Linked DNA regions of Homo sapiens. The protein of the gene in region 3 purifies or fractionates together with the protein of the main gene of each other region. This does not show direct contact. Each region holds a gene or a part of one and is shown on either strand. Other genes may lie near its edges.

Region 1 (3,500 bases), on a different chromosome or scaffold from region 3:
AAAAAAACATTTTAATGATGCCTTCAAAGCCTTACTATAACAGAAAGTTGAGGGATAAAAATGAAAACAATATTTGTACAAGTTATTTATAACAGATTAGGACAAAGGTAAGAGTAAGAGTAAAGGAAATCACTTAGAAAGCTTAGTTTTCAAAAAACTCAGATCAGGGTCGCAGTAACAGGAGTGTAGGCAGCATAAGATAATGACTTGGAAAGAAATACACAGAACAATTAAAAGTTAGAAATCAAAAACAAAAATCAGTTGGATTTAAATGTCGAAGATCAAGGACAGAATAACTTTGAGGAAGCTGTGGCTAGAAAAACACAGAAATTAGAAAAGTATGGGATTAATGAACTCAACTTTCCAAATGTAAACAGCCAATGTCAACGTGACACCTACGTCCTTTGAACAAGTGGAAAATATACAAGACAAATCAGTGAGGGGCCAGGCACAGTGGCTCATGCCTGTAATCCCAGCACTTTGGGAGGCCGAGGCAGGCGGATCACCTGAGGTCAAGAGTTCAACACCAGCCTGGCCAACATGGTGAAACCCCATCTCTACTAACAATACAAAAATTAGCCAGGCATGGTGGCACGTGCCTGTAATCCCAGCTACTCAGGTGGCTGAGGCAGCAGAATTGCTTGAACCCAGGAGGCAGAGGCTGCAGTGAGCCGAGATCGCGCCACTGCACTCCAGCCTGGGTGACAGAGCAAAACTCCAACTCAAAAAAAAAAAAACACCGAAAAAAAAGAAACATCAATGAGAAATTAGAAATTGAGACTGTAGATTTGTGTATTATACATATATAAGGTAGAATCTTAATACATGTAAACATTAGCACCCAGGAGAAATAGGTAAAAAATTTTAAGTGTGTACAATAACAGTTATGTATATACGTATACACATACTTGAGAGACATAACAGTGACTCCAACTTCCAAAATATTACAAATCTTAGAAACTGTGTATCAACAATAACTGACTATATGCCAAAGACACACACATTCCTCTGTATGCAGGTGCACAGGCTAAAAAAGACAGGACTAAGTTCTTGGTAGTGACTACACAGATATTTTTGAATTTCGAAAATGATGCTAAATCATGGGACTGCTAATCAACTACTGAAATATAAGCTAATACATATTTGTTAAAAAATTACTTCTCTGGTCTGGTGCAGTGGCTCACACCTGTAATCCCAGCACTTTGGGAGGCCAAGGCGGACAGATCACAAGGTCAGGAGTTCGAGACCAGCCTACCCAACACAGTGAAACCCCATCTGTACTGAAAATACAAAAAATTAGCCAGTCATGGTGGCAGGCGCCTGTAATTCCAGCTACTCAGGAAGCTGAGGCAGGAGAATCACTTGAACCCGGGAGGCAGGGGTTGCAGTGAGCTGGGATCATGCCATTGTACTCCAGCCTGGGCGACAGGAGTGAAACTCCATCTCAAAAAAAAAAAAAAAAAAATTACTTCTCTTCCAGAACTTCGTTTTCTCTCCTACACCTGTTCCTCTTCCCAGAATTTTCTCTATCTTAACGATGACACCATCATCCACCCAGTTGCTCAAGCAAAAAATCTAGGAGATCTTGATTCCTCTCCCACTGATCCAATCCAATAATACTAACCTATTGATCCCACTTCCAAACTGACATCCAAATCCTTTCCATCTTCACTACCACCCTATTAACAACATCATCTCATGCTGAGACTTGAAATGTGGCTGGTACACGTTATTTACACTCAAATAATAAGATTTTGGAAAATTTTGGTCGAATACAAATATTGTTAATTTCACCTATTTCTTTTTTCTTATAAAAACATGGCCAGTAGAAAACTTAAAATCAACAGGTAGCTTACATTATATTTCTGTTGTAAAGCACTGTTTTAAACTATAACATTTAGGTAATAAAAGTGCAAAGAAGGCCGGGCACGGTGGCTCACGCCTGTAATCCCAGCACTTTGGGAGGCCAAGGTGGGCGGATCACAAGGTCAAGAGATGGAGACCATCCTGGTCAACATGGTGAAACCCCGTCTCTACTAAAAATACAAAAGTTAGCTTGGCGTGGTGGCATGCGCCTGTAGTCCTAGCTTCTTGGGAGGCTGAGGCAGGAGAATTGCTTGAACCCGGGAGGCAGAGGTTGCAGAAAGCCGAGATTGCACCACTGCACTCCAGCCTGGTGACAGAGTGAGACTCCTTTTAAAAAAAGAAAAGAAAAGAAAAGAAAAAGTGCAAAGAAAACAAAGGCTGCGCTTACCATAAAAGTCAGGATAATGTTACTCTTAAGGAAATGGAGTGGCAAGTGGAGGAGGAAAGAGAGATTGTGTTTGAAAGGGAATCCATGGAGGGATTCTGGGATAGTGGCTGTCAAAGTGATGTCTCCTATCATAGGTGATCGTTAACAAGTTGGTATTACCTTCTAATAGTTCATTAAGTTATACATTCATTTTGTACATTTATTATTAGAATAAAAATTCTAATAATTTTTAAAATTATTTTCAAAGTAGGATTTAGATCTTTAGATTTAGGATCTGAAAATGAGACTCATTAATATGTGTCCTGGGGCTTGTGGTCCTGTACACATGAAGCGATCTTAGGGCAGGCAACATGCAAATTAAAAGCCCAAAAGGACTATTCTAGAGTCCAGGAACTCTGGGAGCTGATCCTATTAAGCACCATTACAGAGAAGCGGGACAGCCTAGCTGTGAAGGGCACAAATTCTGGAGCCAAACCACCTAGATTCAAATTCTGACTCCACTACTGCTAACTATGCAAACTTCAGCAAGTTACTTAAACTTTCTGTGCCTTTGTTTTCTAATGTGTAAAATGGGCTATCTCATGGGGCTGTTGTAAGGACTGAATTACTTAATACACATAACTACTTAAAGGCAGAGAAAAATTAAGTACTTCATTTGGATGTTTGCTAGTTTTATTGTTATTTCTACACCAAAGAGATCTAGATCTTCAGAATTGAATACGATTATGTGAAGTAATCCCATACACTACTATAGAAGAAGCAGAGAGTCAAATAGCTTTCCTAACACATTCTAAGCTTATTTATCTGAAAAGTCAAAAATTCCAGGAAACATTACTCCCTCATATTACAATACAGCCAGCAATTCCCAAAGGTATGTTACCCTCCATGCAGCTTTGGTCTTCCTTTCTAATTATGGCTCCCATTTCCTCTCTGACTCCCCACTCTTTTAACAGCTGCTAATGTAAGAGAGAAATCATGGTCTGGTTAAGAAAGAAACATAAGAACATTGAGATAAGCATGTTACACTTTAACCAGGCCAGAATCAGCACTAATTCTGTAAAAAGAATCCTAACAAGAAAACTAAAACTCCCCAAAGAAATTCTGAAAATTTAGAGGAAAGGAGCATATCTGTGTCCCTTAAATACTAAGAGTTAGTTTACCTGTTCATCTGAAGCTAGACTAGTGAACAGTGGAACAATTTCACTTTTCACACTGTCTAATTCCAAAACTTTTGCAAATTCACCCA
Region 2 (3,500 bases), on a different chromosome or scaffold from region 3:
GAGAGGTTTTAGGAGTAGATCTTCAGGAAGATCAGCAGTCCCCTGTAAGGCAGCTGTTTCAGGGGAGGCCATTATATACTCTACAGGCAAAGGAAGACTAATTTCCTCACATATGGGATAAAGGACTGATGCTTCTACTAGCAGAAGATGTCACAGAATTTAGGAGTTCGGGGTACTTGGCTTCATCAGAGTCTGTCCATATATCTTCATTCTACTTTTCAGGGCCCCATTCCTTGCCAGTCAAGGTCCTAACTTTAACATAAGATGTCCTGCAAGAGTGTGAATTCAATTTGCATTGTAACTGAGCCACCTGCAGGATATACTTTGTAGAAGTCTCAGCCCTGTAGCCACATGATATAAGGCTTTCTATGAAGGCAGTTATAGATTTCTGGCCCCCTTACCCAGATTTGAGTAGTGCTTTTAAAACTCCGAGCTCATCATTTTCTTTTCCTGAGAAAAGAATTATCCAGTGTACCTAGAAACAACTAATTAACCCATTATACAACTTATTTTTACTAAAATCTTCTATGGCATCCACTAGTTAGTTACCCAAGGCTTTGTCTTCTGTAGGTCCTTGTCTGCAGATGATGATTTTAAATATTTTGCCACTGCATGCTGTGGACTACTAGTAGCCCCTTTACCATTGGAAACTGGTCATTAATACCTTCAATCAAATCAGAGAAGCAACTTCAGGTTCATATCTTTAAGGACTTCTTTTAACCACTTCCTGTAGCAGAAATTCAGGGTTCAGACAGGGAAACAGAACCACTATGAGTATTGTGGAATTAGGTGTTTATTAGAGGAATTAGACTAGAAAACTAGGCAGGTTGAGCTGCTGGAGTAGGGTTCAGAGGGAGGCTGTTACATAAGTCATGGAAGGCTATTGCCTCTTTTGTGGCTTTGTTTTTGCAGCCAGGTGTCTTCCCAAGGCTGCTGTTACTCAGAGGGCTGGCAGTTGGGAAGAAAAGCTGGACATGTAGTGGAGAAAAGGAAGCAGAGTAAGAAAGAAAAAGGATGAGGACAAACTTTTGAAGCCTGTAGCACAGAGGTTTATATTAAGAAAAGAAGATATGAAATTGTCTTCTAGGAAATGGATTAGGGAAATGTAGGATTGTTCGATAGGACTAATAGCCTGTTGAAGTTAGTGCTTATGAATTTAAAGTATTACCAATGTTTTTCTCCAGCTACATGGTGAATGTTTTTCTCCAGCTACAGCCTGCAGGTTAAAGCACTGAAGGCTTAGAGATAGGATTTAATCAGGATTGAAGTTTTGCCAGGTTAGTGAACAGAGGGAGAAGCAAAAAAGTTGAGTGGTTGGAACATCGACTGTGGAATCTTCGGTTAGGAGGGAAGCAAGAACGGGCTGACAGGGACAGCAAAAAGTTGGTAGAACCAGTGGATTGTAGGTCAAGAGAGAGTGAAAGAAGTTTGGAGTCAGGAGTGTGAGTGCTTGGGAATGAAATTAGAAAGGGATGCTGTTACTGATAGGCTGTGGCAGTGGGTGATCATTGTAGGGAGGATGGCATCATTGGAGAAGAGGAGGTCGAGGAATGAAGAGGTCAGAGGTTTAGAGATACCATCTGTATGGATATTAAAATCACCAATACTTATTACTGGGATTGCACTGGAGAGACAGTGAACAAGGTACTGGTATTTTTTAAAAATAAGGGAAGTGACCTGGGGTTTAATGGACAACCAGCAATGGTAGCAGGTGACATAGTATAAAGGCATAAGCTTCCCCACCTGTAGGCCTGGTGGTATGAGGGTTATGGGAGAGAAAACAGCTGCTATTTCAGAGGGTTGCAGGAGGATCCCTGGGAGAGAACCAGGTTTCAGTTAAAGAAAAAGATGGGAACATTCAGAGAAGAGTTTGAGAATATAGGGGATTTTGCTGATGAAAGTGTCAGAGAATATAATGGCGCTGATTAGAAGGGTGGAAAATGGAGTCAGACGAGGTGCTGTACCCAGATGCAAGGAATAAGTCTGCAGGTTATGAATAATGACCAGAGTATTTTAGGCTTTTTGTAGTGACTGAGGTAAGTAGCCATGTACAGCATGATGTGATTAGTTTTAATGATTCCTTAGGCAAAAATACGGAATTGAGGGAGTGATTGTTTTGGGACAAAGAGAGGTAGAGATTTTGCCAGAAATACGTGGAGCTCCTTCCGTTACCAGCATTCCTTTACCAGAAGGTAATTACTGTCTTGAAGTTGGTATTCTTCTATCGTTGTTTATATTAATATATGAGGATTACATAGTTTACATCTGTAATCAATACTTTGCATTTTTGTGTGTCTTAAAATATAAAAATAACATCTTCTTCTTTTGCAATGTTGTTGTTGTTGTTTTTGAGTTGTCGCCCAGGCTGAAGTGCAGTGGCGCGATCTTGGCTCACTGCAGCCTCCGCCTCCCGGGTTTGAGCGATTCTCCTGCCTCAGCCTCTGGAGTAGCTGGGACTGTGGGCACGTGCCACCATGCCTGTCTAATTTTTGTATTTTTAGTAGAGACAGGGTTTCATCATGTTGGCCAGGATGGTCTCAATTTCCTGACCTCTTTATCTGCCCGCCTTGGCCTCCCAAAGTACTGGGATTATAGGCCTGAGCCACCACACCCAGCCTGCAGTGTTTATAATTAATACATTTTTAAGATTTACTGGCTTGTTACATGTACTTCTACTTTATTTACTTTCACTACTATATGGAATTCCAATATGTGAATATACAGTAATTCTATTTATCCATTCTCCCATTGGTAGATATAAGTTGTTCCCACATTTTACCTATTACAAATGATACTGCACATAATGTTTATGTACACAGTGAGACTTTTTCTGGAGTAGATACCTACAAGTGGAATTTCTAGATAATGCTTGTTTGTTCGTTTTTTTTTTTTTTGAGACGGAGTCTTGCTCTGTCGCCCAGGCTGGAGTGCAATGGCATGATCTCGGCTCACTGCAACCTTTGCCTCCCAGGTTCACGCCATTCTCCTGCCTCAGCCTCCTGAGTAGCTGGGACTACAGGCACCCGCCACCACACCTGGATAATTTTTTGTATTTTTAGTAGAGACGGGGTTTCACTGTGTTAGCCAGGATGGTCTCGATCTGCTGACCTTGTGATCCGCCCGTCTCAGCCTCCCAAAGTGCTGGGATTGCAGGCGTAAGCTACCGCGCCCGGCCTAAGCATATTTTCATGTACTTATTTGCCATCTGTATATCTGCTTTGATGAAGTGTCTGTTAAAATTTGTTACCACTTAAAAAAATCAGGTTGTCGGCTGGGCCCGGTGGCTCACGCCTGTAATCTCAGCACTTTAGGAGGCTGAGGTGGGCAGATCATGAGGTCAGGAGTTTTAGACCAGCCTGGTCAACATAGTGAAACCCTGTCTCTACTAAAAATACAAAAAATTAGCTGGGTGTGCTGGCAGGCACCTGTAATCCCAGCTACTTGGGAGGCTGAGGTGGGAGAATCACTTGAACCCAGGAGGGGGAGATTGCAGTGAGCTG
Region 3 (3,030 bases):
GCTTCTGAACATATTTTTTTCACACAAATACATACTGTAATACTTCTGTGCTTTTTGCTTATTCATTTAACACAATAACATGTTATATAACAAAACTTACAGATCTACCGCATTATTTTTAATGGCTACATAGTAGACCTTTGCTTAAAGGTAACATGCTTTAAGGCATTCTCCTACTAATAGGCATTTATTTATGACTGTTAATATAATAACAATGTTTTATACCTTATGCACAATGTTTTATACACACTTTGGCAAGAATATATGTAGGACAAATTGCTACCAATGATGCAATTAGATCAAAGGTCAATGCATTTTTAATGTGAGTAGATATTACTACCAAACTGTCCCCCAAGGCCATGAGGTGGCACCAAATTGCACTCCTCTCTCTCTGCAGGGCATGAGAGTATCTGCTTGCCTGCAACCTTCTACCATATGTAGTATCCAAGTTTAAAACTGTTTTGATCTAATAGGTAAAAAAAAATTCTTTGCCTTTTAAATTTTCATTTTCTTTGTCATTTTTATTTTCATTTTGTAAATTACAAATGAAATGAAGCATTTTTTTCATTTACTCATTAGCCATCTATATGTTTATAAACCACCTGGTAAAATATTTGCCCATTTTTCTATTATTTATCTAATGAATTTGTAAGTGTCTTTCTATATTAAAGGAATTAATCCAGGTCTGTCATATATCATGTGATACAGCATTACAACATAAAAAGAAAATAGTTGTGTCACTAATTACATATTCTTATCTATATATCAGATATATAGCTGTTCCATCTATATAGCCTAAAAGAGAAAAATAAAATGAAAAAATTGAGACTGATTTTAAAGTTACAGTAAATGTCATTCTAACATTTTATTATTTTTCTGAATAAAATAAGCAATATCAACTAATTAATCATTTATTTACTATGTTTACCCACACATATGAGTGACTCACAGATATGATTAATAATATTTCAATCTTTATATCATTTTACAAAAATTTACCATATAAGAGATCAGGCCATATGTGACTTGCCTAGAGAACTAAGTTTTGAAACTTACCCCTTTATTGCATTACCTATAATTATTTCATGGTGAGTGTTTAAAGTCATCAAGATATTTGATTAAATAATTCTAAAAGAAACCAGTACATACTGAAAAGAGTTGACAGTAGTGATAAGAAGCAAGATGTTTATATTTTTTTGTAAACCCTGGTGGTTGATGAATGCTAACATTAGAAAAAAATCACTATTTTATGATTCTTAAAAATCTCTATTTTTCCCGTGAATAATGCCCCAATTAGACTAAAAGTTTCTGATAGATTGAAATTATATCTTATAGTTCTTTATAGGCCCCATAATTAATAATTTTTCATAAATATTTGCAGACTAAATATGAAATTAACAGACATTTATAACTACTTCGAGTGTTACCTAGTTAACACTGTATACTGGGGCTTAAATAAAAATCAGTAATTTCAGGATAAATACATATATTCCCCATATCTAACTATTCCTGCTATGTCTCTGGTTCACCATGCCTTCACATATACATCCCTTATTTCTATAGTATTGTATTTTATTTAATCCATTACATACTTTAAAGATTTTCTTATCTATTTATTGTTTCCAGTTATCTAAACATAGCTAGTATTTACTAAACTGTTAATCATTTGCAGCAGTATATTTTGGGAAAATGAATACAGGTATAGGAAAAATTATAGAACAAGAAAATGTTAAAAGTCAAGATCAATAGTATCCAACAATACCATGGAGTCCCGTGTCTTTGGAGCTTGAGGGTGCCCTAATCATGATGAAATGGTCCTAAAATAGGCAAAAATAGTTTTAGAGGTCATCTGCTTACAAAAGCGCAGACAGTGGCGATTCTACTATCCTTAAGTTTCTCTTGCTCCACATATGCCTGGATTTGTGAGAATAATGTGACTTAGAAGACTGTGCAGATCCAGGACTCTGAGAGTGGGGAGAGGCCCTCTGCATGAGGTTTCGGGATATGGCCCTCTGGAGATTCTTCATGGAAGACCCTGCAGCCATGGTGATCACCCAGGGATGGTCCAGGGCCTGGCCAGCTGACATGCGATGACCAGCCTCCAAAATCAGTAGTTTGTCTATAAAGTCCTTCGCCAAGTGGGAAATGCTTGGCCAAGGCTGAGAATAAAAATAAATAAGTTAGAATAAAATAAATAAAATGGAAATATACACAAACACAAAGAATCCTATTCTTAATTACATAGATCAATGCCAATCGAATCCAAAAAACTTTTTCAAATAAGCAGTTTTAATACTGTGTCATTACATATATAGAGGAACTAAACCACTTTTGAGGGAGGAAAAGAAAAAACTTTCACAGAAGAAAAAGACAAACACAAACACAGAAATTCTCTTCCAAACTCTTTGTCCAATGAGTGAGAAAACCTTCTCAGAAATCTGTCCATTGTGCTGTTGTTATCAATACGAGTTCCCATACTGCATTTACGGGAGCTGGACAAGGCAAAGCAGCTGTCTTTTACGAACTATGTCAACATCAGGTCAGTGTTTGCAACACTGTGGTCATCTCACAGAGTTCCTGTGACTTCAAGAATGAGAAGGAGTAGAAGGGGAAAGTGGAATGGATTGAGAAATCATCAACTTTTCCCTCCCTTTGAAAGCTTACTCTGAGCCAGGCACAGTAGCTCACGTTTGTAATCCCAGCACTTTGGGAGGTTGAGGAAGAAGGATCGTTTGAGTCCAGGAGTTTGAGACCAGCCTGGACAACACAGCAAAACCCCATCTCTACAAAAAATGTAAAAATTAGCCAGGCACAGTGGCACATGTCTGTAATCCCAACTACTCAGGAAGCTGAGGTGGGAGGATTCCTTCAGCCCAGGCATTCAAGGCTGCAGTGAGCTATGATGGCAGCACCACACTCCAGCCTGGGTGACAGAGTGAGACCCTGTCTCTAAAAAGAAAGAAAGAGGAGAGAGAGAGAGAGAGAGAGCGAAGAGGGGAGGGGAGAGGCAGAGAGAGAGAAGAGGGGAGG
Region 4 (4,010 bases), on a different chromosome or scaffold from region 3:
GCCTTGGCCTCCCAAAGTGCTGGCATTACAGGCTTGAGCCGCCACCATGCCCAGCCGAAACATCTTCTCAACAGACTTGTTTAGGCAACCCTGCTCAGAGACCTGAAACATCTCCCATGTGTCCCTCCTTCTCTTCCCAGGATACCCTTTAATAGGCAGCCTCCTCCTGTGCTGGAGGCATTACTTCTCTTTCCTCTGTAGCCATCTTCCTGTCCTCTTCCTCCTCAAGTCTACTCATGGAACTTCCCTCAGTACCTCCCAGCTGGGACATCCAGAGCCTTCCTTGGCTTGAAACTTAACTCCTTTTCTTATCCCTAATTAGACTGAGTTCTCCAAGAACTGGACCTGTGTCATCCTCGTTGGTTACTCTCTCAGAGGTGAGGTAATAGAACCAACCAGAATTCATCATTCACTCATTCATTCATTCATCAATACCTCCTTTATGCCAGGCACTGGACTAGCAGACCCCTACTCTTAAGAAATGCAGAGATAAAGGCCTGCATGGTGGCTCATGCCTATAATCCCAGTACTTCTGGATGCTGAGGTAGGTGGATCGCTTGAGCCCAGAAGTTTGAGACCAGCCTGGGCAACATGGTGAGACCCTGTCTTGACAAAAAATACACAAATTAGCCTGGTGTGATGGTGCAAACCTGTACTCCCAGCTACTGGGCCTAGACCTGAGCCCAGGAGGTCTAGGCTGCGGTTAGCCATGATCGTGCCACTGCACTCCATCCTGGACAACAGAGATATTGGTGGGTTTGTTTTGTTTTTGAAACAGGGTGTCACTCTGTCACCCAGGCTGGAGTGCAGTAGTGCAGCCTTGACCTCCTGGGCTCAGGTGATCTTCCCACCTCAGCCCCCCCACCACCAAATAGCTGGGACCACAGGTGCGCACCACCATGTCTGGCTAATTCTTGCGTTTTTTGTTGAGACTGGTTCTCACCATGTTGCCCAGGCTGGTCTTGGACTCCTGGGCTCAAGTGATCCTCCCGCCTTGGCCTCCCAAAGTGCTGGGATTACAGGCGTGAACCACAGCGCCCAAAGATTATTATCAGAAGAGAAAAACATCTGAATAAATTAATCTAACATGATAAGTATGATTATAGCCCATGCATAAAATCTATGGGAGCAGCAGAGGAAGCAAAGGATTCTAGCTATGAACTAGATCTTAAGGAATAAATAGGCGGAACACAGGGAAAGGCAGTCCAACAGAGGGAAACATGCCACTCACTTGGGATTAAGTGGAAGGACAAAGAAAATTTTAAAAGATCACAAAGGTATCTTCACTATCCTTTTTGGTATAGGTCACCCGAGGAGGAAAAGAATCTTCAAGCTAAATAAAATACAGAGTACTGATTCCAAAACTCAAGAATAGAGAATCCCTCAAGTGAGACAGCAATCATAATTTGCCTTAGTTACAGTCTCCCTTAATCCTTCTCCCTTCTCTCCCCTCTCTCTATTCTCCTTAGAAACACAATACAAAATCAAACAGAAAGAGTAAGAGAAAGCTACACACACAGTAAGAAAATAAACTCAGAGAGCTTGAAAAAAGGCAGAGCTTAGCCAATCTGTCTTTGACTCAGCACTTAATGTCATTCCCGGTTGTTATCCTATTTCCTTATATTGCATATTCTGCAATGATTCAGGGAAGGGCAGAGCTTATATGAATGAGCAGTTAAGTAAATTAAAACACATGCGTGCACACACACACACACCCCTCCAAATACAGATTTGAAAACACTGGCCAACCACAGGAAAGCCATCAGTTCCTCCAAGGGGGTGTACAAGGAACAAGTGTTGGTTGTTAAGCATGGAAAATAAACCAGTAAGTGAATGACATCATCTCAGAGTTATGAACTGAGGACTGTGGGCGATGGGAGGGATTTTGTACATACACATGCTGTCTCAAAAAAATAAAAAACCGAAAAACAGTTTTCCTGTCCTTCTCAGGTCTGGAACTAGTTTTCCTTTAACAGAAGACTGGACATGGACTTTGCTCTTTGAATCCTAATAGAAAGGAAGGGAGTGGTGGAAGGAGCAGGTTTTCCTTTCATTCAGAAAATCAGATAGAACCTTTCTGCCCCACCCATCCTTCCAGCTCCAGTCTCTCTCTCTAAAACAGTGTCTTTGAAAATGTGGCCCAGGGACTACCTTCCTCACAATCACCTGGGGTGAGGGAAGAAGCACAGCAGTGCTTGTTATAAATGCAGATTATGGGCCCCAAACCAGACCTTCTGGAACTGAAGCTCTGGGACAGGTCCCAGGAATCTGCATCTCAAACAAGCTTCCCGGGTAATTTCACCCCCTGTTTGACAGGCATTGTCTGAAAGCGGCATCTCAAAGCCTAAGAGTCCCCCAGATCCCTTGAGGCGTCTTGTCCGGTGGCATCGCTGGGCAAGTTTGGTAGCCAGCAGTAACTGCTGAATTTCAAGGAGCCATTAGGATCACCTACATTCTCCCGACTCCGGAACCCCAGAACTTGGAAATAGGAAGAAAGTTCTTTGTAAGCTTTAAAGCGCAGCACATTAGTCAGGGGACAATGCGCCGCTCACAGTTCCACTCGGGCCCACGGCGCCCGGGCTGAGGATTCCCGTCCCACTGAGCAGTCCCACCGCCCTCGCCCCTCAGGCTTCACGCCCGACACACGCCCCAATCTCTCCCGGGACAGCCAAGCCCCCGACCAGCGGCACCACTGCGAGACCCTTCTCTGACCCTCTCCGCACTCACAGGCTGCCCAGCCTGGGCCCGCTGCTCTCCTCTCCATGTTCCTCCTTCTTCCAGGTTTGAATCTCCCGCCGTTGGGCCACCGCCCCTCACCGTCGGCACCGCCAGACAGGACACTTCCCGTCCACACCGCTGAGAATCCTGGGATTTGTAGTTCCCGGCCGCGGAGCCGGGCCGCCCAGGTGCTGGGAGAAGAGGCGCCCCAGGCCGGGGCAGTACCGCTCCCCTTACAGCAGTTCCTCGTCTTGTTCCTTCCAGGCTCCTTTTCTGCTTAACAGTCTTATTCTAGCTGCTGCCCCTGCCATTGCCTCTGTCATCTCCACCTAGTATTCCCATTAACCCCTACTCTGCTTCCTATGTGTTCCCGAGTCCGGCTAACTTGTGGGCCTACTTGGCGCTATGCACTAAGCTAGGTGATGCGAATGCAGAGATGTATGAGGGCAGTGAATGCTCTAAAAGAGTTTGCTGTTCTGGCACAAGTGATAGACATATAGTCAAATAAATTAGAGGTCGGTGATGCACAGAGGGAGGGGGTCATTGCTGTGAATAAGAGCAGCGAATGACAGGGAAGACGTCCTGGTGGAAGTGACAGCTGATTTGGGTTGAGAAGTGAAAGAGAATTCATCAGATTGAAGAAGAGAGGCAGTGCAGTCAGTGGAGACAGCATGTGCAAGAACGAGGAGGTGAGTTCGGGAACTTAAACTTGGTTCAGTTTTAGAGGAGAACAAAGCTCAGCCAGGGAGAGGCCAGAAGGGATCCTGGAGGCACAGGGCCAGGTCCAGTAGCACCTTGGGCACCATGCTAGGGCCCTGGCATGGGGTCTGGTGAGCAGTCACCAGCCAAGGAACACTTTAGACATAGGTCAGAGCCAGATTTGTCCTTTAAAAAGAGCCATCTTATAGCAGGGGATTGGAAGGGGGTGAGGCTAGGGGCAGAGACCAGTTGGAAGGCTACTGCAGTAGCACAGAAGAGAGATAATAAGAGCCTGAACTAGGCCAGGCACGGTGGTTCACACCTGTAATCCCAGCACTTTGGGAGGCGGAGGCGGGCAGATTAACTGAGGTCAGGAGTTCAAGACCAGACAGGCCAACATGGTGAAACCCCATCTCTAGTAAAAATACAAATATTAGCCAGGCGTGGTGGGGTATGCCTGTAATCCCAGGTACTCCGGAGGCTGAGGCAGGAGAATCGCTTGAACCCAGGAGGCAGAGGTTGCAGTGAGCTGAGACTGTGCCACTGCACTCCAGCCTGGGCGACAGAGTGAGACGCCGTCTCAAAAAAAAAAA
Region 5 (3,500 bases), on a different chromosome or scaffold from region 3:
TGAAACCCTGAAGATCTTGATGCTCCTTTGTGCTCTCTTCGAAACTCGTCTCCCTGGCTCCACTCCTTGGATCATCTCAACCTCAATCTGACTAGCAACCTGGAATCCCTTGACCCCCTTGATTTTCCAATACTGAATAAACCCAACCCCTCTTAAGTCGATGGACAATGGTTGCAGAAGCACTGGGAGATAAAAACCAAGATACGCACATTTATAGTAACAATAACAAACATCCGAAATATCTACCCATAGGGAAACAGCTAAATAAACTAAAATATATCCACTTTATTACATGCCATGTGACAGCAAAAAAACTGTGTATATCTACAAATACTGACATGGAAAGATTCTGCAAAGTATTGTTAAGTAAAAAAAAAAATAGAATGATACGTAAAGCATGACACCATTAAATTAAAAAAACATACACAGAGTACTATGAGTTTTCTACATATATATATTCACTCACGTATACACACATACACATATATGAAAATGCCTAACAAAGGAATCTGGGACGACACACACCAACTAATATCAGTGGTTATCTCTGGGGAAAAAATAGCAATTTAGAGTATGGTCAAATGGGAATGTATTATCTACGAGATTTGTTTTATAAGAACTAATTTAAGTTTTTTTTAAAAGAACAAGAAAAACTGAAAATAAACTTAATGCCTAGGAATAAGGAGATTAGTTAAATAAATGATGATATATACATGGAATAGATTATGAAGTTATTAAAACCATGTTCCAGAATATTTAATACTCATGGTATATAAGTAAAAAATGCAAATTATAAGACAGTACGAAGCAATGTAATCCCAATTTAATTTTTTAAACTCCAAGTATAGAAAACTAGACTAAAATACAAAATACATGAATGATAATTGTATCTTAGAATTTTATAATGGGTGAGCGCCAGCTTTCTAGTTCATAGACAGCATCTTCTCACTGTATCTTCACATGGTGGAAGGGGTGAATAAGCGCCCTTGAGCCTCTTTTATAAGGGCACCTCCTAATACCATCACACTAGGCATTAGGATTTTACATATGAATCTCATGGGGACACAAACATTGAGAACACAGCAGTGCCCTTATAAGCACAAATATGAGAGTTTTTTGTTCTCTCTCTGCTCTCCGTCATGTAGATACAAAGACAGCTATCTATAAACAAGAGGGCCCTCACCAGACACAGGATCTGCTGGCACTTTGACTGTGGACTTCCAGCTTCCAGAACTGTGAGAAATAAATGTGTGCTTGTATAACCCAGTCTATGGTAACAGGTAATACAGCAGCCAAAGCTAAGATACCAACCACCTTTAAGCATTTCTTCATCAGGGCTGTTGCAGTAACTTAAATAAGATAGTTTTCTCACACTCACTAGTGTGAAAACCCTTATTTGTCCAGATTCTCATAGTTTTTCACTAGAGTTTACATGCCTCAAGGGCAGAAAACCTACCTACCTCATTCCCTTATCCTGAGTGCTTAACACAGTACATAACTTTTATTTGATGTCCAAAACCTGCTTTCTGAATAAATTGCCTCTTTATTCTTTATTCTCCGGAGCACTCGGCATAGCAGCCTGCCCTGATACATGAAACAGCTTGCAGAATAACAGAATGAATACACATGGGAACCTGGGAATACTTTACCTTATGGATTTGGTAAATGACATCAGGCTGAGTTATACTTAAAATGTCATTGTTGCCTTTCAGCGGCCTGGCATGATCTTTAAATTCCTGACCTCGGAAGTGTTCTTCGTTTAGCTTCTCCCGCTGGATCATGGTCCCCATCCCTCCATCCAGCACCATAATCCTCTTCTGCAGAATGGCATTGATCTCATCCCGCAGGGTTTTCTTCAGACCTTCTTTAAAGAAAGTGAAAGTTTGACTTCAAAGAATGAAAGGTGAAAAAGATGTGTGAGGGAGGAGCTTTAGAGAAATTTATAATAATCTCCAATAAGGAGTAAATGGAGTTTATAAAAGATGCACTCATAACTCTATATAGGAAAACGCTGCCCAAAAAGGTCATTAAGTCGTGACAATGCCTAATACAAGATTGCACACAGCACAAAATTCCTGGTGAAGCACGAAACCAAGGTGAAGGTAGGCTACACTACTCCTGTTTTACAGATGAGGAAAACAGGCAATAATGGGCCAGTGATACAAGACTTTGCTCTCTTTCCTTGTTAATTCTGTGCAGATACTCCCTAAATAAAATGATTTAGCAGAGATAATTGAAAACCATCAATAATTCCAAACTATTCTTTAAAATATTAGCTTTGACCTTCTCCCTCACCTATTGCCAGAACTAATAATGGCCTGCAAACAGAGTTTTACTCACCTCTGCCCAACTATGAAATAATAACTGGCTAACACCCTTGAACTTCTCAACTCTCCCCATGCTCCTTGACTTCTAATTCCCAGTCCAGAAAAGGGCCCAATGCTTACTCCTTCTAATCCTGCTTTCTGGTTTCTACGACCTACTGGAAAGCCACAAAACTATGCTGACTGGAGTCACTGAAAACTTGCAACGTTCAGCCTCCTTTGGTTCACCTTTTCTTGACCTCCCTCAATACTTCCAACATCTACTGTCCCAATTTCTACTTTTTTTTTTAGCACCAAATCCTTTTCCTCCTCACTCCACAAGTGATTTCACCTAATCCCGTACAAAGAAGTTTTCTGTTGGAGGCTCCTCAAACTCACACCCTCTCCACCTCAAAATCCTCTTGCAGTCTGGCTCACTCTATTTCCCTTCTTTCTGTACCTAAGGAAAAGCGCATGATGACCAACACCTCCCACTGCTCCCTCATCTAGCCCTTCCCACTCCCACAGTTCCACCTCAGCAACCACCGATTTCTTATCCTTCTGACATGGCTTCCTCCTCCACCACTCTCCTGAAATTACTTTCTAAAGTCACCAATGACCTTCTAAATATCAAAAACACCTGGCCCCAATCTTAGACCCAGCTTTTAAACTGTCCACTGGATATGGCTACCTCAACTACCCACCTGCCCCTCAATCTAATATTCAAAACCAAACTTGCATATATTCTCTGTCTCATCTCCTGATTTCTGTAAATGGCAACACCCTTCCCAGAAGACTAACCATAAAATCTCAGTATTATCTGACTCCTTATTCTCCCTGATAACCAACATCTACTTAGATCCCAAGCCTTATAGATTTGGCCTCTAAAATGCCATGCACAATGGTCCCACCTTCCTCGCCCTGTGACAACCCCTTTCTTCAACCCCTTACTACACAGGCCAGCTATCACCAATCCTCTCTGAGCTCTAGTTTGCATCCATGCAAATGAGATCATACATCTATGGAAGTGCCTTGTAAACTATCAAGTGTCCTACAAAGGTAAGAGATCACCACCATACCCAGTCGCCCTGTGTTCTAATCCATCCTGTGCACCACTACCAGATTTATCTTCCTATACAACAATTTTAAACCAGTTGCTTCCCCTGCTCAAACACCTTCAACAACTCCCTATAGCAT
Region 6 (3,536 bases), on a different chromosome or scaffold from region 3:
GGTTGGCAGAGAGGAAGATGAAGGGCAGGATCCGGGTGGGGATGGCAGAGAGGGGACCAGTGTTGCAGTCCTCTCACTGAACCCAAGCAGCCTGGAAGCCAAGTGGCCTTGTTCTATAATCCCAGCACTTTAGGAGGCCAAGGCAGGCAGATCACTTGAGGTCAGGAGTTGGAGACCAGCCTGGCCAACATGGTGAAACCCCTTCTCTACTAAAAATACAAAAATTAGCTGGGTGTGGGGATGCACGCCTGTAGTCTCAACTACTCAGGAGGCTGAGGCAGGAGAATCACTTGAACTCGGGAGGCAGAGGTTGCACTGAGCTGAGATTGTGCCACTGCACTCCAGCCTGGGTGACAGGGCAAGACTCCATCTCAAAAAAAAAAACTCCTCCGCCCAGAAGGCCACAAAACTCCCCAGTGTTTGGTCTTTGCCACATCCCAAGAAACTGCACCCCCCTCTGCCTGTCCCCCCGTCCCCAGCCATTAAGCATCACTCGGGTCTTTGAATTGGTACAAAGTTTACTAGGTCATACGACACGGCTCACAAAGCGGTGGGAAATTCCAGTGATGGCATTGTTTGTTGGTTGGTTCCTTTTATCCAAATGGAGACAAGACACATTTCCGCAGGACTGTCCACCTCCCCCCACGAGACAAACAGAATGCAAGACTGTCACACGCGGCTAGGACTGGTTCCACGGACACACGATTTTGTGGCATTGACACACCACGATGCGATGCCAGGCCACAGTGGGTGCCAGGAGGGGAGGAAGCAGCTAATGCTATGCCCACACTCGCCTTCAGGCAGTGCCCCCGGGAGGGAGGCCCGGCAGTGTCTGCTGGTGATAATACATTTCACACAGGGAGGGGGAACCCCAAGGATGGGCTTTGGAGGCCCAGAAGGCCTGTCAGGTGGTGTGATTTTCCATCTCCAGCCAATAAATAACTCTGTTGGATGAATGCATACATTAGAAATGGATGCCACTACACTTCACACGTGGGGGACCAGGTCAAAATCAAACCATGCAAAGTGGCAGGGCAAGTGAGGAGGGATCCGGGTGAGAGATATTATCAACAGCACACGCTCTATTCTGTACCCTACAATATATACCATTAGTTGGATTTTGCTTTCCTCCCCGCGCCGGCAGGCCCTGGCGCCAGCGTCTCCCAGCGCAACTCGCTGGGAGGGTAGGGGGTCGCCGCTTGAAGAGAGAAGTGCTGGAGAGGCAGTAGGCTGGGGATCCCGGACTCTTAGCTGCTTGCCTCTGTGCGTAACCGCACGCCCACGGCCGTGATGAGGGCGGCCCCCTTGCCGCTGCCATCCTCAGACAGGAGGAAGGACACGTTACATTTTGGTGACAGTTCCTTCACCGTCTGGTGCATGATTCTGGAGAAGCTAAAAAGGACGAGAAAACAGAAGGTAGTTGGAGGAAGATGAGAGACGCTGGGCCTACCCGAAAACACCAAAGCACAGACAGCCCCCTGACTGGTGATGATTCGACTTAGGATTCTTCGACTTTGTGATGGGTTTATCAGGACATAAGCATCGGAAGTCAAAGAGACTCTGAACCCAACAACAAGGAGGGTGAACATGGTTGGGAGGCAGGCTGCTTAGAAGCAGCTGTGGCCAGTTGAGAATGGCTGGGAGGAAAGTGGGCCCACGGTCAATCCCATTGTCACAGTTTTCAGCAGGGAGGCCCAACTGCGAATCCAAACACAACTGCTCTGTATGGCTTATGAAGGCTAGGACATGAATAACACACACACCCACATCGGAGCTTGAGGCTCCAGGGGGACCTCAAAACCAAGGAGGATGTTAGGGGCTGACATGGATCATTAAGGCAGGTGCAAGCCAGCCAAGCACTGGATCGGTTCAGGAGGCTATGCAGGAATGAATATCACCCATCTCCAGCTGCAACCCTGAGACCCCCAGCGCCCCACCATCAACAGCCTGGCCCCCAAAGACAGGAATGCCTTCCAGTGAAGATAGTATCTGAACAAAGGCTGAATCTACATGCTTGTAAGTTGGGCTCAAAATGAAGGGCAGGGCCAGGCTGAAGATGCTTGTGGTGAGGGGCTCTCAAAAGTAGTCACTGTCCTTGGTTGGGGACCTATTAGGTGGGCGGAGTGCGGTGGCTCATGCCAGCACTTTGGGAGGCCAAGGTGGGAGGATCACTTGAGCCAAGGAGTTTGAGGACCTACTAGGTGCCCCATATTTTACAGCTCTAATTTCTAGTCCTGCCAGTGGCTGCCACCTCATGAGGAAGATGAGATTTTGCAGGGATTAAGCAATTGCACACAGATTCTAAGTGACGGTGCCAGGGTTAAATCCAAGAGTATGTGGCTCCAAAGCCTAGCTCTAAACCACTCCTGTGTGCTGCCTCAGCTGATGGCAAGGACAGCTATTAAGGGGGAGAGACAGAGGTGAGGATGGAGCAAGACAGATGGTTCCACCCCAAGCCACGGCCATGAGGTAAGCAGGTAATGTCTACACTGAGTCGGGTGAGGTTGCTTATAAGTAGGGTGACACTATGGCCTCATTTATCTGGGATGGTCCTAGTTTGCCTACAGTCCCAGAGTAATAATTATTAGCACTCTTGACTGGCAAGAGTACCCTAGTGTAGACAATAAATAAATAATATGGTCACCCTATTCATAAGGTGAGACATGCGGTGGATCACAATCACACAGCAAGTGCAATCACATGTCCTTCTCTGGCATGGGGGGTCAGATGCCTGACCAGAGGGAGGCCACTCCCTACCCCTCCCTGCCATGAAGCCCAGGGCCCAAACCGCTCCCGCCCTTCCAAGTCTTAGCAAACTGATTCAGCAGATGAACAAGAGAGTGGCTATCCTCCTTTCCTATTTTATTTTTTGAAATAGGGTCTCACTCTGTTGCCCAGGCTGGAGTACAGTGGCGTGATCTGGGCTCACTGCAACCTCCACCTCCCAGGCTCAAGCAATCCTCTTCCCTCAGCCTCCCGAGTAGCTGGGACTACAGGCATTCACCACCATCCCTGGCTAATTTTCAAAATTTTTTTGTACAGACAAGGTCTCACTATGTTGCCTAGGCTGGTCTCAAACTCCTGGACTGAAGCAGTCCTCCCACCTAGGCCTCCCAAAGTGCTGGATTACAGGTGTGAACCACTGCACCCAGCTCCTCCCCTTTCTTAATATCCTCTCCCCACTTACCCAACAGAGCCTCTGGCCTGGCTACAGCTCACCAGGCTTATGAGTGAGCCCACGCCCACCCTCACCTCCTCTCCCACTGCCTAGCCCCCACCTAAGGGGGACCAGGAGGAGTGGGGTGAGGGTCACATCATGCCACTGGTGTGAGCTGGCCAAGTGAAGCCACTTCTCTGTCTCCCTAAGGATCCCAGTCAAACCCTACAAACTGTTCATTACCTTGTCCTAGACAATCCCCAGCTCCTGAACGCACAGCCTTCAGCCTGGCTGGGCTCCCGCAGGGCATTTCCCCAGCGTAAACCACACCCTGATACCCCCTAACCCAAAGGGATCCCAGCAAGCTCTGCGCATCCCA
Region 7 (2,599 bases), on a different chromosome or scaffold from region 3:
CTCCCAAAGTGCTGGGATTACAAGCTTTACAGGCGTGAGCCACCGCGCCCGGCTCAAGTGATTCTTGTGTCTCAGCCTCCCAAGTAGCTGTGATTAAAGGCGTATGCCACCACACCTGGCTAATTTTTGTATTTTTAGTGGAGATGGGGTTTCACCATGTTGGCCAGTCTGGTCTTGAACTCCTGACCTCCACTGATCCATGCGCCTCGGCCTCCCAAAATGCTGGGATTACAGGCGTCAGCCACCATGCCCAGCTTAATTTTTTTTTTTTTTTAATTATTTGTAGAGATGGGTTCTTGCTATACTGCCAGGGCTAGTCTCAAACTCCTAGCCTCAAGTGATCCGCCTGCCTCAGCCTCCTGAAGTGTTGGGGTTACAGGCATGTGCTACTGTCCTGGTTACCCTGAAAAATTTTTGGCCAATCCCTGTCATTGTTATTCCAGTGATGCCTCTGGTTATATGAGGCATATGTGGGGTGGGGGAAATATCTGACAGCCCCATTACCAAAAGAAATCTTTATTCTTCAGCAGGTAGACAACATCTGCCAGCCCTGGTCCTCAGGGCCACACTCATATGCACTCACCCCTCAGCAGCATATCGCCCCTTTTCTGACATATAAATGCAAGAGACCCAGGACCCTAGATCTTTCTTCAAACGCAAGTGTCTCACACACACTTATTTTACAAATCCACTAGAAATATGGACTCTTATGTTCTTTGTACAGCCATGCAACAGAGGCCTAGCATTTGTGCTGTGTCTGTGGGAAAGGCAGTCAGAGACCAGTGGTTTCCCTGCTTTGGGGAAGATGGCTCAACAGTTAGTAATCCCAGGTTAGATTGTCAGAACAGTCTAGGCCAGGACTGAGGGCTCAGCTGCCAGGGCTCCCCAACAGAAACCTGTAGGCAAAAAGAAAGTTGGCAGCATTAGTGATGAGGCTCATCTTGGTCCCATCTCTCCCCACGACCTAGAAACTCACCACTCCCCTCTGGCTGACACTGCTTCCTTGCGCACCAGTCTCTTCTTGTCATCCAGGGGTTTGGCTAAGGCCCGAATCACCTGTGGTTTGTACGGCAGCAGCTGTGGAGTCAGAGGATATAATCAACCTTGCTCATCCAAGGCAACTGAAAGTACCGCTTTTTTGATTCTGTACAACTAATATTCTGAGGAAAGCAAAACATCTTTAGTGATTCCAAGGGATGTTAAGTGGCAGGATGGCCTTTCTGTTACCTTCTGGGCCCAAGGAAAAGAATCCTTGGGCCCAGAATTACAAGATCTGTACCTTGTAATTCAGATCTCAATTACACACCAGGGTGGCCAAGCCCACCTGACTAAGGCAAAAAGGTACTTATGTGTCTCTTGAGATGTTCCCAGGCCAGGGAAGGACACCTGAGGTACTTACCACAGGGGTGGGCAGGCGAGTGAGAGCATGCATGCACTGCAGTGCGGCGATCCGGACAGCCTGGAACACAACCACAAGGAGGTGAGAGCATGCCCAGGGAGAGATGCTGGTGCCTAAGAGTTGCTGGGGCTCAACGCACCATGGAAGGGCTAGAGCTGAGGTTCAGAAACTTGGTGACGAGGGTGTCCACGTGAAGACTCATGACTTGGGGTGCTTCCAGTAGAAGAGGCTGAAGGCAGCTGAGGGTGGAGAGCTGCACCACACAGTCAGGGCAGGACAGGGCCTCCAGCAGCAAGGAAAGAAGCTAAGGGGCAATGGGCAAGGTAGGGGATGGCCACATCATGAAGATCCTGGTTCTTGTTCCCTCCCCTTTCTAGCCCCATCTGGGGAAGAATAGCTTTGTCCTTTGCTTAGAAGCTCTGCCTGTGGGACTTACCGTGGGCAGCTCTGGCAAGAGTACAGGCTTGGGCAGCCTGTTAAGTACATGAGAAAGACCCTTCAAGTAGTTTGGCTTCACATCTGTAAAAAATGGAAAGGCTTAGGGGAGAAATTGGACTTAGATATATAGCTTGAGAAATCAATTCCAATCTGTGGTGAGGCTGAGACATCAGCCTACAAACGGGTGAAAGAGCCCTTCACGCTCAGAATAAGCAAGATACGCCCATGAAAGGAAGAAGTGGGACAAGAATCTAGAAGTTTAGTCTTCTAGGCACAGACCACAATATAGCTCTAAAGAAGCAAGCGGGCCCTAAATTATCTTAGGGAATGTGGCCAAGCAAAGGAGAGATGTGTATATGTGGGGACCTTCTTTCAGACTCCTCACCTTGGGGAGCAGCATGGAAGCCCTGGACCAAAGCAGGCACATTATCTGTGAAGAACCGCTGGCGGAACATGATCCGCACTTCGGCATGGCCAGCACGAGTCAGCACATCAGTGCAGTCAGACATGAGCAGAGAGAAGCCATCAGCTGCTGCTGGACCTAATTCTGGGTCACTCAGGAGGCCCATGAGCTGGAGAAAAAAGAGCCTTTGAGGTACATCAGGGAAGAAGAATCTTAAGTGCCAAAGATAAGGATGGGGCCGGGTGTGGTGGCTCATGCCTGTAATCCTAGCACTTTGGGAGGCCAAGGCAGGTGGACTGCTTGAGTCTAGGAGTCTGGGCAACATGGCCAAACCCAGTTCTTACAAAAAATACAAACAT

What was found.
Region 1: the proteins of PSKH2 (region 3) and PPP2R1B purify together in Homo sapiens (affinity purification with mass spectrometry; one large-scale study listed by BioGRID and IntAct). This does not show direct contact.
Region 2: the proteins of PSKH2 (region 3) and COPG2 purify together in Homo sapiens (affinity purification with mass spectrometry; one large-scale study listed by BioGRID and IntAct). This does not show direct contact.
Region 4: the proteins of PSKH2 (region 3) and IQGAP3 purify together in Homo sapiens (affinity purification with mass spectrometry; one large-scale study listed by BioGRID and IntAct). This does not show direct contact.
Region 5: the proteins of PSKH2 (region 3) and MTR purify together in Homo sapiens (affinity purification with mass spectrometry; one large-scale study listed by BioGRID and IntAct). This does not show direct contact.
Region 6: the proteins of PSKH2 (region 3) and HK1 purify together in Homo sapiens (affinity purification with mass spectrometry; one large-scale study listed by BioGRID and IntAct). This does not show direct contact.
Region 7: the proteins of PSKH2 (region 3) and MMS19 purify together in Homo sapiens (affinity purification with mass spectrometry; one large-scale study listed by BioGRID and IntAct). This does not show direct contact.

What each region holds. Positions count from the first base shown.
Region 1 is NC_000011.10:111,756,390-111,759,889, forward strand, and holds part of PPP2R1B (serine/threonine-protein phosphatase 2A 65 kDa regulatory subunit A beta isoform), read right to left. Parts: coding exon 3,415-3,500; intron 1-3,414. UniProt on the Homo sapiens protein: The PR65 subunit of protein phosphatase 2A serves as a scaffolding molecule to coordinate the assembly of the catalytic subunit and a variable regulatory B subunit.
Region 2 is NC_000007.14:130,658,749-130,662,248, reverse strand, and holds part of COPG2 (coatomer subunit gamma-2), read left to right. Parts: intron 1-3,500. UniProt on the Homo sapiens protein: The coatomer is a cytosolic protein complex that binds to dilysine motifs and reversibly associates with Golgi non-clathrin-coated vesicles, which further mediate biosynthetic protein transport from the ER, via the Golgi up to the trans Golgi network.
Region 3 is NC_000008.11:86,046,609-86,049,638, forward strand, and holds the end of PSKH2 (serine/threonine-protein kinase H2), read right to left. Parts: intron 2,160-3,030; coding exon 1,854-2,159; 3' UTR 501-1,853; downstream 1-500.
Region 4 is NC_000001.11:156,569,766-156,573,775, forward strand, and holds the start of IQGAP3 (ras GTPase-activating-like protein IQGAP3), read right to left. Parts: upstream 2,801-4,010; 5' UTR 2,765-2,800; coding exon 2,728-2,764; coding exon of another isoform or gene 2,713-2,727; intron 1-2,712.
Region 5 is NC_000001.11:236,801,792-236,805,291, reverse strand, and holds part of MTR (methionine synthase), read right to left. Parts: intron 1,865-3,500; coding exon 1,650-1,864; intron 1-1,649. UniProt on the Homo sapiens protein: Catalyzes the transfer of a methyl group from methylcob(III)alamin (MeCbl) to homocysteine, yielding enzyme-bound cob(I)alamin and methionine in the cytosol. MeCbl is an active form of cobalamin (vitamin B12) used as a cofactor for methionine biosynthesis.
Region 6 is NC_000010.11:69,398,847-69,402,382, reverse strand, and holds the end of HK1 (hexokinase-1), read right to left. Parts: intron 1,393-3,536; coding exon 1,248-1,392; 3' UTR 501-1,247; downstream 1-500. UniProt on the Homo sapiens protein: Catalyzes the phosphorylation of various hexoses, such as D-glucose, D-glucosamine, D-fructose, D-mannose and 2-deoxy-D-glucose, to hexose 6-phosphate (D-glucose 6-phosphate, D-glucosamine 6-phosphate, D-fructose 6-phosphate, D-mannose 6-phosphate and 2-deoxy-D-glucose 6-phosphate, respectively).
Region 7 is NC_000010.11:97,457,824-97,460,422, forward strand, and holds the end of MMS19 (MMS19 nucleotide excision repair protein homolog), read right to left. Parts: intron 2,410-2,599; coding exon 2,223-2,409; intron 1,919-2,222; coding exon 1,836-1,918; intron 1,704-1,835; coding exon 1,539-1,703; intron 1,460-1,538; coding exon 1,400-1,459; intron 1,078-1,399; coding exon 977-1,077; intron 897-976; coding exon 869-896; 3' UTR 501-868; downstream 1-500. UniProt on the Homo sapiens protein: Key component of the cytosolic iron-sulfur protein assembly (CIA) complex, a multiprotein complex that mediates the incorporation of iron-sulfur cluster into apoproteins specifically involved in DNA metabolism and genomic integrity.